2 separate regions of the Homo sapiens genome follow, and region 1 is linked to region 2. The links come from fine-mapping of genetic effects on gene expression. A gene starts in region 2. The other region holds a variant in brackets. All regions are shown on one strand. Distances are from middle to middle. Region 1 overlaps GRIK5 (glutamate ionotropic receptor kainate type subunit 5). Region 2 holds the start of ZNF574 (zinc finger protein 574).

Evidence for each region.
Region 1: its variant is fine-mapped to the expression of ZNF574 in skeletal muscle (GTEx, PIP above 0.99).

The regions. Positions count from the first base shown.
Region 1 is chr19:42,037,695-42,040,194 of GRCh38, reverse strand. All of the region lies in intron 12 of GRIK5 (glutamate ionotropic receptor kainate type subunit 5), which reads left to right. Among named protein-coding and RNA genes, the nearest start is that of GRIK5, 31 kb to the left of the region's middle. The variant G/A (reference allele first, on the strand shown) is at 1,348.
Region 2 is chr19:42,074,613-42,077,620 of GRCh38, reverse strand. It overlaps ZNF574 (zinc finger protein 574), which reads right to left and starts at 1,455. Exons shown (of 2, transcript NM_022752.6): 1 at 1,335-1,455. RefSeq lists silencers at 1,036-1,115, 1,126-1,385 and enhancers at 1,756-1,875, 2,096-2,145, 2,226-2,295.

The DNA of each region.
Region 1 (2,500 bases), 37 kb after region 2:
TGTTTAAAGCTTAGCTCTGCTGTGCACTGGTTGTGTGGCTTTGGGCAAGTGCTTAACATTTCTTTAGGTTGTAGTTTGTTCAACTGTAAAATTGGGGAATAACAGCCCTTTAGCACATAGGGTTGTTTTGAAGAACAACATGCAGTGAAGAACTTAGAACAGGGCCTGGTGCATAGTGGGTGCTGTATGCGTGTGTCCTTTTTTTTTTTTCCTTTGAGACTGGGTCTCTCTCTGTTGCCCAGGCTGGAGCGCAGTAGTGCAATCACAGCTCACTGCAGCCTCCACCTCCTGGGCTCAAGCGATCCTCCCACCTCAGCCTCCCGAGTTGCTGGGACTATAGGCATATGCCATAATGCCTAGGTAATTTTTGTGTTTTTTGTAGAGATGGGGTCTGGCCCTGTTGCCTAGGCTGGTCTTGAACTCCTGGGCTTAAGCAATCCTCCCACCTCAGCCTTCCAAAGTGCTGGGATTATACTATTTTTATTATTGTTATTATTCATACCAGCATGGCCAGCACATACATAGATTTGTGTGTTCATCCATTTTCCATTCAGCCAATGTTTGTTGAGTGCCTACTGTATACCAAGCCCTGTGCTATACCCTGGGGATACCATGGTGAACAAGCCCGATGTGCTCTTACTGAGTGGGCTAAAGGGTTTGGGCCTCAGCAGAAAGCCCATGGGATGCCCTTGAAGAGTTTTGTTTTTGTTTTTGTTTTGAGACGGACTCTGGCTCTGCTGCCCAGGCAGGCTGGAGTGCCATGGGGTGATCTTGGCTCACTGCAACCTCTGCCTCGTGGGTTCAAATGATTCTCCTGCCTCAGCCTCCTGAGTAGCTGGGACTACAGGCGCATGCCACCACACCTGGCTAATTTTTGTATTTTTAGTAGAGATGGGTTTCGCCATGTTGGCCAGGCTGGTCTCAAACTCCTGAACTCAGGTGATCCACCTGCCTCAGCCTCCCAGAGTGCTGGGATTACAGGCATGAGCCACCATGCCCGGCCACCCTTGAAGGGTTTTGATCTGGCTCAAGTGAATTGGCCCTGGGGTTGGGGGAAGCAGTGGTAACAGGAAGACCAGTGAGGAGATAAGGAATGAGCTGGTGGGCCTCAGGCGGGAGAACGTCAGAGCTAGAGACTAGGGGAAGGGCTAAAGAGCACCAGGGCTTGGTGACTGCCTAGGGTGGGGGATGCAGGAGAGGACAGGAGGGAGAGCATTCCTCCTGTGTCTGGCTTGGGCATCTGGGTGATGGCAATGACATTTACAGGGAGAACACTGGAGGAGGAGCTGGAGCGTGAAGGATAGGCGGAGTTTGGCCTTGCCCTGCTGTGGGATAGCCGAGTGTGCC[G/A]AGCTGCACAGGAATAGTCACCACCGTCATCACAACAGCAGCAGCTGTCATTTGTTGATTTCACACCATGTGCGAGGAACTTTTCAAGTGTTACTTAACATAATTTTCATAGCAGTCCTTCATGGCCTGAGGATCACTGCCCAGTGTGAGATCTGGAGTCCCCAGTGCACAGGGCTGCAGCCAGGTGTGTCTGACTTAAGGCCCGTGCCCTTTCCAGCCCTCCAGCTGGGAACTTGGGAAGCTCGGAGTACACTGATGGAGTGGCACGCTGTGCCAGGCCCTTGTCTGAGCTTTCTGACTTGTCTCCATCCTTGACTCCTCATGGCCACCCAGTGAGAGAGGGACTGGTATTAGCCCCGTTTTCTCAAATGTACAGTGAGGCATCAAGGTTTCATGTCCAGGCCCATGGCTAGTGACCAGGAGAGCCAAGGTGGGCACCCCATCAGGGTGGCCCAGAGCTGGTGAGTGACTTCCAGATGGAAGACAGCCTGGGGCACCACCATCCTGCCAGTCACCCCTGGGCCAGGCACAGGTCTCCTTGGCCTGTCTTGAATTATGACCCATTTTTTCCACCCAGTGGCCATGGCTGACATTGGCCTTCTCCCTGCCATCACTGCCATGGTGTGAATTCAGGTCCCACCCCTCTCATCAGCCTCCTTACTGGCCTCCTGGCTTCTAGTCTCTCCACTCCCCAGCTTGTCCTCCAATAGAACCTTTCTACAGTGTGAGTCTGATCTGTCACTTGTATGCTTTAACTGAAGCCCCTGAGGCCCTCAGGATAAAGCTTAGCCTTCAAGGGCAAAGAAGATCTTAGGTCAGGGTCCCAGGAAGCTGACTCTGAGATGGAGATGTAGAGGCAGGAGGTGTGATGGCGTGCCCCTGGAAACCTGCCCTGTGCAGGAGGGAAGGAAGCAGGCTTGGGCAGAGGAGTTGAGCTGCGCTGCAGTCACAACTGGGCCTTAGCTGTCCCACAGGCAGCTCTGGAGCTGAGCTGGCCGTCAAGGACCTCCCCCTGTGGTAAGGGTGCCAGGCCTTTAAGCACCCACTGATATGTCACTGGACGTGGGCTGCTCTTGGGGAGAGTCAGGACTTTGGGTGAGGGGACGCTCTTCTACTGACAGAGCTGAGAGCCATCAGCCACCTACACCCTGGG
Region 2 (3,008 bases):
TACCCAGATCCCCTCTTCCCATTGATTTAAACCCTTCCTGTTCATACACAGCCACTCATTCAGGGATGCCCATACCCTCATTTTATATCAACCTATGCCTCTCTTGCAAACAGAGCCCCCCCTCAAATCCATCTCAGGAATATCCAGATCCTCCTCCACATTATTAACCTAATCTTTTTTAATTTGCTAGAAGACCCAACCCACCCTAACCCATTCTAGGGATGCTCAGACCCTCCTCTTCGTAGCAACATAACTCCTCTTCTTTGTGTAAAGATCCACACACCCATCTTTCACAATGGCTTAAGCTCCTTTTACACACACCCCTCGTGCTGCCCAAACCCCCTTTAGGGATACCCGGACCTCCTATTCTCATACAGAACCTCCATCACCACCTTAATCCAGCACAGACCCCTCTTCCTCACACTCAAGCCCCTCTCACCAGCCTCCTATTCTGGGGGTACTCAGACCCCCCAGCGTCTTAGCAACCTCTCAGTCTCATTCCAGGAATTCCCAGGCACCCCTCACTTTAGCACACAGATCTCTCCCACCCTACTTCCTCCCCTTCCAATAACCAAATCCCATCTTCACCTTGGCCTAATTACCTGTACTTAAAAAAGACTACCTTCCCCAGCTCATTCTAGGGACACCCAGACACCCTTTTAAAATACACTTAATCCTTCTTTGTACAAAGACTCCTTTCCACGCATTCCAAGGGTACCCAACCTCCTGACACATTGGTTTAAGGCCTCTTCACATTAATTTAACCCCATCCATTACAACTGGACCCCTCCTTAGCTCTAAACCGTTCCCTTGGGGATATCGATTTCCTAATGTCTTCACACCAAAACCCCTCTCACCGCCCCAATTCTTTCCAGGAAGAACTAGATATTTTTCCCCTGCATTAACTTAATTATCTTTCTCACGCCCTAAGCCCCTAACTGGGCACCCACGTGCCGTCTAACCGGCCCAGCCCCTTCGTCCTGGACTTGCCACACCACCAAGTCCTTTACCCCAAACCCTGGGGAGCCGCGGAGCCCTCTTGGGACAGCTCTGAGGCCTCCCCTTCCCGCCCAGGTGCCCCACCAAAGCCTCAGCCCGAGCCCCGCCCCTCCTCACTCAGCCCCGCACGCGACTCCAGGCCCCTTCCCCACCCGCCGCTCCAGCCCGGCCCCCGCCCGGCTGCCCGCGCGCCGGGTCGGCCGTTGGTGCCGCTCCGCCCTAACTGCCCGGCGCGCACCCCCTCAGGCCCTCAGTGCGCAGGCGACCTGGCAAGAGGAGGCCGCGGCGGCAGGGAGCGCAGCCCGGCCGGCCTCTGCGCGCCCGCTCGCGCTCACCTGCTTCCGCCGTCTCGCACGCCCCGGGCCCGGGCCACGGCTCCCCTTGCACGGCCACCCTAACGCTGCGCCCGCTCTAGCTCTCGCCGTCGCCTCTCGCCTGCTCCGTAGCCTCGCTCTCGCCCCCAGCTACCCTCAGCAACGCCCCTCCCACCTTCCTCCTCGGCCGCCGCACGGACGGCCGGACGCAACCAATCATTGCCCGCTCGGGCCCTGCCGTTCGGCCAATCGACGTTCATGTCTCTGAGGCTTGGGCCAATAGTGAGGAGCGTCGAGATTCCCCGCAGCGCCCAACCAATCCTTTAGCGTCGTTCCCTCACCGGTCAGCCCTCGGGTGGATAGTGCCCGCCCCTTTAATCCTCCTTAGAGGATGCTCCTCCTCCTCCTCGACTCCGCCTCCGACGGCTCCAGAGGGGAACTCTGAGCGGAGGGCGGCGCGATGACGTTAGGCGGCGGAGCGCGGCCGCGGGCGCCATTTTGGGGACGCCGTGAGGGAGTCAGCGTTGGGGACAGGGAGAGGGAGGAAAAGAGCCTGGGAAATTGAGGCACGCGGCACCTTGAGGGCTGGAGCGGGGGAATGGAGGCACGGGAACCTTTGTGGTTTCCCCGAGGGTCAGAGGGAGAAAGTGAAACCACTTAGCGCGATGGGGAGAGGGCAAACTGCATGCAGCACCAGTCACATGGAGAGAGAAAAGGGAAACCAAGGTTCCAGACTCACTTTATTAAAAGGAGGGGAATGAAGGCAACAGGAAGAAACAGAGAAAAGACCGAGGGGACTTTTGGGAGGTGGAGAGAGGAGAAATGTCATAGGGGAAGCAAGGAGAGCGAGGATATGGAGAAAAAGAAGCAGGGACAATTTCATTGGAAGAAATAGGGAGTGTGGTGGGTAGAGGACCTGAAGGACAATCGGGGTGAGAGCCTGAAGGAAGTGAGCCGGTAACGGGCGGACTCCACTCCACCTCCTTCCGGGGTGACTCTGACCCTTACACCTCGAGATTGGGGCCCCATGTGTCCAAGGGGCTCTGGCCATTCCTACTCACCTCGTTCCTGCGCCCCTCAGGGCCTTGGGAGGGAGTTGCCCCAGTACTGTTAGAAACGTTTCCAGGCTGGGCGTGGTGGCTCACGCCTGCAATCCCAACATTTTGGGACGCTGAGGCGGGTTCACTTGAAGTCAGGCATTCGAGACCCACCTGGCCAACCTGGTGAAACTACCATCTTTACTAAAAATACAAAACATTAGCTGGGCGTGGTGGCTCGTGCCTGTAACCCCAGCAACTCGGGAGGCTGAGGCTCGAGATTTGATTGCACCCAGGAGGCCGAGGTTGCAGTGAGCCGAGATCACGCCACTGCACTCCCGCCTGGGCGACAGAGCGAGACTCCATCTGAAAGAAGAAAAGAAACATTTCCAGACCTACTCCTTGAACCCAAACACAGAGGAATTTCAACTTATCGGATGAGGAAACTGACTCTCAGAATTGTGTTATTTATTTACTTACCTGAAGCCACTATGGGATGCGTCTCACAGTGAGACCCGGGGCCAATTCTATGGCCATTTGGTCACTAGATGTCCTAACCTTCTCATGGATTAAATTCCCTAACACCAGGCATGTATAGTTAAAACAGATTCCCGGATTGGAATCCTGGTTCTAGGGCAAGTCAACTGTCCTGAGCCTA